3 linked regions of the Homo sapiens genome follow. The protein of the gene in region 1 purifies or fractionates together with the protein of each later gene. This does not show direct contact. Each region holds a gene or a part of one and is shown in the gene's direction. Other genes may lie near its edges.

Region 1 (3,655 bases):
GGCTCACTGCAACCTCCACCTCCTGGGTTCAAGCAATTCTCCTGCCTCAGCCTCCTGAGTAGCTGGGATCACAGGTGCACACCACCACGCTCACCTAATTTTTGTATTTTTAGTAGAGACGGTGTTTCACCGTGTTGGCCAGGCTGGTCCTGAGCTCCTGACCTCAGGTGATCTGCTTGCCTCGGCCTCTCTAAGTGCTGGAATTACAGATGTGAGCCACCACACCCAGCTAGTTTTTTTTTTTTTTTTTTTTTTTTTTGAGACAGAGTTTCACTTTGTTGCCCAGGCTGGAGTGCAATGGCACGATCTCAGCTCATCTCAACCTCTGCCTCCTGGGTTTAAGGGATTCTCCTGCCTCAGCCTCCTGAGTGGCTAGGATTGATTACAGGCATGCGCCACCACGCCTGGCTAATTTTGTTTTTTCGTAGAGACAGGGTTTCTCCATGTTGGCCAGGCTGGTCTCGAACTCCTGACCTTAGGTGATCTGCCTGCCTCGGCCTCTCAAAGTGCTGGGATTACAGGCATGAGCCACTGTGCCCAGCTAGGTTTTTTTTTTTTTTTTTTTACCTGTTTAGTCATGTCTTAAATAAACAGTAAGTGAGAACTTAACGACCTTCAGCCTTAGTGCCAACTCGTCTGTCTGCATGGTCTCATACAGTGCAAAGAGGATGGGGTTCGGGAGTCAGTCTGATCTGCCTTGTTCACTGGTTCCTCAGCCTCTCTGAGATCAGTGTTTTCATCTGTAAAATGAGGATGAACACTTACCTTATATTATTTTTTGAGCATTGAAGGAGATTGTACATGTAGATAAGTAGCACACGCTCATCGAGAAAAGTTTCCATTTTTCCTATCTTTCCCTCTGTCATCTGCCCAACTTCTTTTTTTTTTTTTTTTTTTTTGAGACGGAGTTTCGCTCTTGTTGCCAAGGCTGGAATGCAATGGTTGATCTCGGCTCACCGCAACTTCTGCCTCCCAGGTTCAAGCTATTTTCCTGCCTCAGCCTCCTGAGTAGCTGGGATTACAGGCGCCTGCCACCACTGCCCGGCTAATTTTGTATTTTTAGTAGAGATGGTGTTGCTCCATGTTGGTCAGGCTGGTCTCAAACTCCTGACCTCAGGTGATCCACTGGCCTCAGCCTCCCAAAGTGCTGGGATTACAGGCATGAACAACCGCGCCCGGCCATCCTCTGCCTAACTTCTTTCTTTATGCCTGGGTCTTGGCTGTCTTCTCAAAGGAAGGAAGCCATCCTAGTCCCACTTCCTTGCGTATTGATTTATTTGTACTATTGGACACATCAGAAAACTGTTTCTCCTCTGTCTCACGGCATCTTTCTGCTGATCCTCCAGCTTCCAGGATTCAGCTCCAAATTCACTTCCAGAAAGCCTTTCTTGATTAACCCAACTCAGCATAACTATTCTTTTGGTTTTTATCTGCTTACATTTAAATATTTCATGTTTCATTAATTAGAATATACGGTTTTGTCATTATGAGACAGGTTTACCATTAATTTAAAAATATTTTCCTTTTTAATTTTTAGAATCTGATGTTCCAGCAGAAATCCAGGTGTTAAAAGAACCCCTACAACAGCCAACCTTCCCTTTTGCAGTTGCAAACCAACTCTTGCTGGTTTCTTTGCTGGAGCACTTGAGCCACGTGCATGAACCAAACCCACTTCGTTCAAGACAGGTGTTTAAGCGTAAGTAAGAATAAATGAATCTTGCTAAATAAAGCTTGTAAAGGCTGGGCTCCGTGGTTCATGCCTGTAATCCCAGCACTTTGGGAGGCTGAGGTGGGCGGATCACCCGAGGTCCGGAGATCGAGATCGGTTTGGCTAACATGACGAAACCCCCTCTTTACTCAAAATATGGAAATTAGCCGGGTGTTGTGGCAGGCACCTGTAACCCCAGCTACTCGGGAGGCTGAGGCGGAGAATCAGTTGAACTGGGGAGGTGGAGGTTGCAGTGAGCCGAGATAGCGCCACTGCACTCCAGCCTGGGTGAAAGAGTGAGACTGTCTCAAAAATAAATAAATAAAGCTTGTAAAAATACTGTGTTGCTGTTCTCACTTATTCATGGGAGGTAAAAATTAAAACAATTGAACTAATGGAGATAGAGTAGAATGATGGTTCCCAGAGGCTGGGAGGATAGTGGAGGATGGTTAATGGGTACAAAAATATAGTTAGAATAAATTGGATCTAGTATTTGATAGCACAGCAGAGTGACTACAGTCAACAATAATTTATTGTACATTTAAAAAATAATAAAAAAGATGGCCAGGTGCAGTGGCTCATGCCTGTAATCCCAGCACTTTGGGAGGCCAAGGTGGGTGAATCACTTGAGGTCAGGAGTTTGAGACCAGCCTGACCAACATGGTGAAATCCCATCTCTATTAAAAAAAAAATGCAAAACTACCCAGGCGTAATGGCACATGGCTGTAATCTCAGCTACTTGGGAGGCTGAGGTAGGAGAATTGCTTGAACCCGGGTGGCGGAGGTTGCAGTGAGCCGAGATCACGCCACTGCACTCCAGCCTGGGCAACAAGAGCTAAAGTCCATCTCAAAAAAAAAAAAAAAAAGAATGGGCTGGGCGCGGTGGCTCACGCCTGTAATCCCAGCACTTTGGGAGACTGAGGCAGGTGGATCATGAGGTCAAGAGATCGAGACCATCCTGGCTAACATGGTGAAACCCTGTCTCTACTAAAAATACAAAAATTAGCTGGGCATGGTGGCGGGCACCTGTAATCCCAGCTGTAATTTGGGAGGCTGAGGCTGGAAAATCATTTGAACCTGGGAGGCGGAGGTTGCAGTGAGCTGAGATCGCGCCATTGCACACCAGCCTGGCGACAGAGCAAGACTCAGTCTCAACAAAATAAAAATAACGAAAAGAATATAATTGGATTGTTTGTAACACAAAGAAGGGATAAATGCTTTAGATGATGGATACCCCATTTATCCTGATGTGATTATTACACATCACATGTCTGTATCAAAATATCTCATGTACCCCCATAAATATATACATCTACCATATACTCACAAAAATTAAAAATACAAAATAAAAATATGTTGTTTAATGCTGTGAGTCTGGAAAGCGTCTGGTATACAAAAATTGGAGTGAAATAAATATTAATGATTTCCCTACTTCAATTCAGCTTACATTTTTCTTTGAGTAATTCCTTACAAATATAACTGTGGATCCCATAATTGCATAAAATTGAATAAATGAAATATAGTTCTTTTGCATCTATACTATGATAATGCTCACAATTTTTTTTTTTCTCGAGATGGAGTCTCACTCTGTTGCCCAGGCTGGAGTGCATTGGCGCGATTTCCGCTCACTGCAATCTCCGCCCCCCGGGTTCAAGTGATTCTCCTGCCTCACCCTCCCGAGTAGCTGGGGTAGGCACGTGCCACCATGCCCGGGTAATTTTTGTATTTTTAATAGAGACGGGGTTTCACCATGTTGTTCAGGCTGGTCTCGAACTCCTGACCTGGTGATCCACCCGCCTCGGCCTTCAGTGTGCTTTGATCACTCCTGTGAGTAACCAGTGTGCTCCAGTCTGGGTGACATAGTAAGACTCTGCCTCTAGAGAAAAAAAAAAAAAAGAATAGTTCCAGCCAGAGATTCTGAGGTTCTTTTTTTTTTTTTTTTTTTTT
Region 2 (3,655 bases), on another chromosome or scaffold:
TTAGAAAGATATAATTTTTAAAATTAGGTTATAACCAAATCTTGCCATCCCAAGATGTGGTTATAACCCAGTTTTTTGTTTTTGTTTTTGTTTTTGTTTTTTAATGTGAGGGTACGTTAAGGGGGAAGAGAATAAAAGAGGAATTAGCGAGCTATAGTGGCAATGAAAAAGGAGAGTCTTAAGTGGCTCTCTTCATAATGTCACAATTAATAAGTTTAACTAGATAAAATTATTCTTTTAAACATAAATTCTTTTTTAATGCTCAGAAGGTTTATATATAACCTACACAGTCACTGTAAGCAGCATACATATTACAGCTTTGGAACTACGTTGAGCCACATAGGATGTATTTAGTGTTTTGATGAATTGGAAAATTGAGATTCTTTTTAAACAATTTTATCAGCAGTTGATGCTCTGAACTCTTCATTCAAATGTATCAAGTGTAATTAAAAATGTAGGGTCATAAAAATATTTGGGATTATAATTTTTAAAGTCTTAATCAGAAATGAGTTTTATAAATTAGTGCCCATTGTTTTCTGAAAACCTGAAAGGCTTCACATAACATTTAAAAATTATTAGCACAATGTTTATGGAGATAAGAAATGGATAATACTTCAGTAGGGATAATAATGTGTCTTTAGGCATATAATGTAGCATGACCAAGAAAAAAATTAATGCTTATTGGCAATTTTGGGGGAAATTTAGCTGTCATACTTTGGTGACTGCTTATTTTATAAAATAAGTACGTTTGGTAGTTAGGTTGAGTACACTCTATTCTCCTGATTGTGGCAGTGTGGACACATTCTAAAATGTCCTAACGTGAATGTATGGAAATATCTGGACCACTCAAGTGGTTGGAAGTTGCAGTAGAATATTTCATGCCTGTTTGATCTCCCATCATATATGAAATTGTATTGCATCTTGGTCTACACTTAGTAATTATCAATTGAATATATTGTTTTCTAGGCATAAGTTGGTTTATAAATTTTGTCCTGAATGCAGGCCTCTTTTAACTTAGGTTTTTATTACTATATGTATATTTGGAACTATTAAATTCTATTTTAGAATACACTTTGATAGCACTTATTAACATTCTTCCCAAAGTGCTTGTTATTTAAGCAATGGTTTGTATACTTAAGATCATTTTTCATTAATATTCACTAGTGTTCTTCAAAAATAATTAATACTCAGGGTTTTTTAAATTAAAGTTTTATATCTTACAGAATATTTCAATAAAGCTTACATGAGGCATGAATGATTTCATAAACATGAAATAAATACTGTTTTATTCAGTAGAGTATCCATTTATGTCCTGTGTATATACATATATAATTATTATTACACAGAAACATTCAATTGTTTAGATTCCCCCATTCCTCAGTAGTTTCTAATAAGTGAATTCTGCTGATTGCTTTAGAAGATAAAGACAAATATCTGTTAAAGAGCAATGGAACTAGAGAATGAGCATATACACTTTAGCTGAAAGCAAAGTAGCACCAGAGAGTTAATGGTTGAATGTCAGATGAATGGTGTACTGCACATAAGAAGTGATAGGATTGAGTGGAAGGGGAGGTAATAAGGATTTCTGAAAAATTTAGGCTAATACTCTGTGGCATTTTACAATTATTTGGCAGTCTTTTTATCTTAGTGATATAAAATCAGTGTCTTAAAGTTGATGAAATATGCACTCAATTAACATGAAAGATAGGCTTAAAGTTATATTCATTGTTGGAGGTTTCTTATTGAGATGGACTATAGTTTTATATTTAAGCAAATTAAATTTTGAAAGTATTATGAACTTTGTTTCTCTTAACAGTAATTTTAGAGAAAAACAGGATAATAATGTATTCATTTAAAAAAGAAAAATATCAAGACACTTCAAAGAAATGTTGACCCTCATTTTTTAATTGACTTGTCTGAGTCTTAAGTTTAGTGTCATACACAATAGGGTAATTAATGAGGGGACTAATGCTTACTGGTGATAAATAGCTGAGTTTCATGGAAACTTGTAAAATTACTTCCCCTGAAGAAGTTAATGAATTAGAATACATGTTAAGTATGGTCATAGTTGACACAAAGTGTACAGACCTAATCCATTCTTTTTCCAATATGTTTTACCAGCTATAGAGAAAAAAAAAATTCAGTCATGGCTCTCAGTACTCCAGGGATTGGATCCTACTTTCCAACCATATCTGAAAAGTGAAGGCTCACCTAATAGCATCAGGTAATTGGCTGCCACGTGCATGTCCTGTGTTGGGTAATATGAGAAAAGTGGTTAGATAATTTCATCCCACCTTCCTCACTTTTCTCAATTCTCCCCAAACTGACACCAAAAAGGTTTAGTTTTCATTTGGAATGTTTGATTCCTTCTCCCACCAACCTCTGTTGTCCTTTTTCCATATTTGTGAGTGAAAATCCTACTGAAAGTTCTTTATATAATTTTACTTTAGAAAGTCATCAATTTACTGATACTCTTTTTTGCTCAATAAGCCTTCACAAATGCTTGAAAAGTCAACAGTGTTGTAAATTATAAATGTTACCTTTTCAGAGGGCCACTTTTGACATATTAGCTTCTTCCATTTTTGCATTGAAAGTTTTAGGCACCCATTTTTTGACTGGTATGTCTATAACCTCATTTTTAATAGGATGGATTTTTAATGTTATGTGGTACTCTTTTGAATATTTTGCTTAACTGAATAACCTTGTAGACCATACAGATGTTAGAAAATTAAAATATAATAATCTTACAAAACAGACAATAATTGCTCTTTCATGGATATTCCAGAAGTGTGGTTAGGATCTTGCATTTCTTTAATGCCATCGTTACGAGTATCTGTTATCACAGAAGCACAGTAATTTTTTTATTGGGATCTAGTATATAATTTCTGTATTAATGTGTTGTCTTTTTGATTACATGCAGTTGGACATTTAAATTGTCGTTAGCCATTTGTGTAACTGTTTAGAACTTGTGCTCAGTTTCCTTACTATTCGTAGGTAAGAAAAATGAAACCAGAAAGAAAGAGACTTGTCTGAAGTCATATTAGTGGGGAGGAGCAGATCTGAACTGGTAATAGATACATTCCAAACTGCTGTGTTTTTAGTATTTGTGGAGACCTGCATAGCAACGTTGGAATCTGGTCGTTTGGACTTTCTCATTATTTGGTTTCTGAATAATCATGTAGCATATTTTCTCAAAGTGAAGGATGAATGTATCATCTAATGTAAGCTTTTTAAAATTGTATTTGCTTGGATTATATTGCCTCTCAATAAAGCTTTTGACTTGGAACTGTGTAGTGTGTGGGAAATAAATGGTGGAGCTTCTTTAGTATGTTGAATTTTAGTAGTTCATTTGCGAAATGCTGTGGTGTTTGGGGATGTTTATTTCCATGCAAGCTTTTCATTTGCTAATGATGTGAATGAAATAGTTTTCTTCCTTTCCTTTCCTACTCTTTGTTATGTGTAGAAGTATTGAATAAATGAGTCCAGAAAAACTTTTTGCTGTTCTTTGATTTTTTGTTAGTAAACATTTACAAAAATTTCATTTGTATGATAAAATAGTTATTTCTAATGGCAGATAATGTACATCCAGAACAGGCTTTTAGTTGCATTTTAATTTTGGGAAACAATGAAATTAAAATATAGATTTATCACAAAT
Region 3 (3,655 bases), on another chromosome or scaffold:
GTAATTCAACTTTTCAGTGTGGCATACCTATTGAAAATTATTTGTTATAAGCCTTTGTTTGTGTAAACAGTGATTTACTGAAGAAAATGGAAATGCTGGAATTTTGAAATGTTAAGGACATTTTAGTTTGAGACGTTGAAGTGTTGGTGCCCTGAGTCATAAGCATGACATGAAGAGGCACGGGCTCCTTCCTCATTGTGAATTCCTTTCTCTTGTGCTCAGGAGTTCAGGGTTGCTGCTATGAAAATATGCTTCAGTCATGATTTTGTCAGCATACTGTTATACATCTGATCATCTTTAGTTATGAAGATTTAAATCTCTTGTGTTCTAATAATTCCAGGTTTGATAACTGATCTGTCTTGTTTATTATGTTTAGCTAATTGAAATTTATGGTCATTAGATCTGGTACTAGAGCTGTTAACATATTTGCTTGCTACATATGTAAACTGGATCCTACTTTTTTTTTTTTTTTTTTACAAGGGGTACATTAAGTTATTAGGAAATTTTAGTATTTTATTGATTTTTCACTAAATTTCAGCATTTGTTCCAAGGTGACTAAAAATAAAAGAAGAAACTGTATACTAGCATCTGCAGTGCATTCCTAGCAGCTGAACTAGTTGTTTTTGTCTTCATAAAAATAAGATCGTAAGTTTTACAAAGGGCCAACTATTCAAATTAAGGATTGTCATTTCAGTGGTGCAGTAGGGTTCCATTTATGATTTAATTCTTGAAATATATTTCAAATTAAATAAGATTTTACTACATTGAATAGAAATTTGATGAAATACTGCCTGTAAACAGAGTCTTACTTTCCAACAGATTATAAAACCTTTTATCTTATTTTGCTTTGCTTGCATATCTCCTTGAAGGAGAGTTGGTTCTGACTTCTACATTTTGTCTTAATAAATATTCAAGAAAATATTCTTTCTTGACAGTAGGATATGTTATTTTTAAAATCACTGATCTGGTAAAATTTGAGGAGAAAAATCTGAAAATTAAATTTCAAGCCTTACCATTAAATCATAAGATGTGAGATTTTATGTTATTTAAAAAAAATTTAGTATTTGGAGCAACATTACCAGAGCTGAATGATTAAAGCACATGAAAAAGGCAGACAGATGGTTGGTTGAAATGTTCTTTTTTGCTGCATGAAAAGTTATAAATGCTCATAGAATGACAAATGTATTACAGTGAAATAATTTGACAGTATTTCACTTGTGTATATAAATGAACTACTGACAAAAACAAATTGCCTGCAGTCCAAATTCAAAATTTAAAATGAAGAGCTTAAAGTAGAATAATCAAGAAGGAAATGATTTTCCTCTATTTCATATTATTATGAATAACGTTGGTTCGTGTATTTAGAGAAGGCTTATTTAGCCTATCAGCTGGAAAGACTTAATAGATCTACAAAAGTGAACAGTTTATAGCCAATATCTGTTTATTGATGGACTGATTATTTATATTGCTGATAGGAACCAGCCTAATTAGAAGTCCACTGTCTTTAATTCAGCTGAGTGAGTTGGCATGGTAGCTGGACAAATGAGAGAAGAATGAATAAGGCCCTGTCTCAGTTTGTTTTATGCTGCTATAACAAAAAACCTGAGACTGGGTAATTTCTAAAGAATATAATTTTATTTCTCACATTTTTGGAGGCCAGGAAGTCCAAGATTGAGTCACAGGCAGGTTTAGTTTCCTGGTGAGGGCTGCTCTTTGCTTCTAAGATGGTCTGTTGTTGCCGCATCCTCTGGAGGGGAGTAATGCTGTGTCCTTACTGGGCAGAAGGTGGAAGGGCAAGAGAATGGAAGACTGTGAAGCCTCTTTTGCAAGGGCCTTAATCTCATTCATGAAGGGAGGAGCCCTCATGACTAAATCTTAAAGGCCCCACCTCTTAATGCTATCATATTGGCCATTAAGTTTGAACATCTGAATTTTGGAGAGGACACATTGAAACCATAGTAGGGTGGTTCCAAAATCATAGGTTGGCAGAGCTAGGCATCACCCAACTTTATTCTTGGAATGGGTTTTCTGCAAGTTTTTAAAGCCTAGGTTGAGAATGTGGTCAAGAAGGATGTGGGGGAAATTAATTAGTAAAATATGAGGGCAGAGAGATAAGGGGCAGAGTGGAAGGCGGAGACCTGATTGTGTAGGGCCTTGTAAAATCATTGTTAAGGTCTTTGATTTTACTCTGAGTGAGAAGGGATGCCATTTGGAGAGTTTTGAGCAGAGGGGTGAAATGATTGTTTACCCTTTAAAGGGACATTTTGCCTCTTGAACTAGGAGTGGACTGCAGATTTGAGGCAAGGACCAGCAAGGAGACTATTACAGTAATTCAGGCAAGAGAAGGTGATCCGATTGGTGGTAGTGGAGAGAAGTGGGTGAGTTATGGATATATTTGAAAGGTAGAGCCAATGAGATTTGCTGATAGTTTGGATGTGATATGTGTGTGGGAGAAAAGATATCAAGGGTGGATACAAAGTTTTTTGCCTACACAGCTCGAAGTTTGGAATAGCTGTCAACTAAAATGAAGAATATTGTGCAAAGAGGAATTTTTTTTTAAAGGGGGAAAGGGACCAAGAGCTTGTGCATGTTAAGTTTGAGATGCGATTAGGCATCCATGTGGAGATACTAAATAGGCAGTTGGATATCAGAGTGTGGAGCTTAGAGGAGGAGTCAGGCTAGAAGTATAAATTTGGGAGTCATCAGGTATCATGGGATTGGATGAGACACTGAGGAAGTGAGTGTAGAAAAAGGTCAGAGTCAGTCAGTCCTGGGACATTCCTGGAGTAATTGTGTCAAATAATACAAATAGGTCAAGTAAGATGATTACTGAGAAGGGAGTTTTGGATTTGTCACTGGGTGGACTTTGGTGACCGTGACAAGCAGTTTAGGTGCACTGGTGGGGCTGAAAGCCTCATGAGTGGGCTCAAGAGAGAAGGAAGAAGAAGAATTGTGGTTAGTATTTTTTTTTTTTTTTGAGACAGAGTCTTGCTCTGTCGCCCAGGCTGGAGTGCAGTGGCGTGATCTCGACTCACTGCAAGCTCCGCCTCCCGGGTTCACGCCATTCTCCTGCCTCAGCCTCCCGAGTAGCTGGGACTACAGGCGCCCTCCACCACGCCCAGCTAATTTTTTTTGTATTTTTAGTAGAGACGGGGTTTCACCGTGTTAGCCGGGATGGTCTCCATCTCCTGACCTCATGATCTGCCCACCTCGGCCTCCCAAAATGCTGGGATTTACAGGCGTGGGCCACCGCGCCTGGCCATTAGTATATTTTTAAGTATAGAAGAGCAGAGAAATGGAGCAGCACTTGGAGAGGAATGTTATGTCAAGGAATTTTTCCTTAAGGTAGGAGAAACTGTATTATCTTGTTTGCTGATGGAACCAACTGATGTAGAGGAGAGAAAATAGATGATGCATTAGAGAGAAGGAAAATTGCTGGAGAATTGCTGATATCCCCTTTTTCTTCTAGAAAACTTACAGATACAGGTTAGCTGAAAAATAACAACCCTAATTTCAATATCCAGAAGAAATCGGTTAATGTAGTATATATCTTTTAGCCTTTTTTCTTTTGCATATATATTTATATGTATGTATGTGTATATCATGTGTTTTTAGAGCAAAGCTATATGCTTTTATAATATGACATTATAATTTG

Evidence for each region.
Region 2: the proteins of EIF2AK1 (region 1) and NAF1 purify together in Homo sapiens (affinity purification with mass spectrometry, with the first as the bait; one large-scale study listed by BioGRID). This does not show direct contact.
Region 3: the proteins of EIF2AK1 (region 1) and AP3B1 purify together in Homo sapiens (affinity purification with mass spectrometry, with the first as the bait; one large-scale study listed by BioGRID). This does not show direct contact.

The regions. Positions count from the first base shown.
Region 1 is NC_000007.14:6,052,587-6,056,241, reverse strand, and holds part of EIF2AK1 (eukaryotic translation initiation factor 2-alpha kinase 1), read left to right. Parts: intron 1-1,537; coding exon 1,538-1,696; intron 1,697-3,655. UniProt on the Homo sapiens protein: Metabolic-stress sensing protein kinase that phosphorylates the alpha subunit of eukaryotic translation initiation factor 2 (EIF2S1/eIF-2-alpha) in response to various stress conditions.
Region 2 is NC_000004.12:163,156,794-163,160,448, reverse strand, and holds part of NAF1 (H/ACA ribonucleoprotein complex non-core subunit NAF1), read left to right. Parts: intron 1-2,121; exon of another isoform or gene 2,122-2,224; intron 2,225-3,655. UniProt on the Homo sapiens protein: RNA-binding protein required for the maturation of box H/ACA snoRNPs complex and ribosome biogenesis.
Region 3 is NC_000005.10:78,284,571-78,288,225, reverse strand, and holds part of AP3B1 (AP-3 complex subunit beta-1), read left to right. Parts: intron 1-3,655. UniProt on the Homo sapiens protein: Subunit of non-clathrin- and clathrin-associated adaptor protein complex 3 (AP-3) that plays a role in protein sorting in the late-Golgi/trans-Golgi network (TGN) and/or endosomes.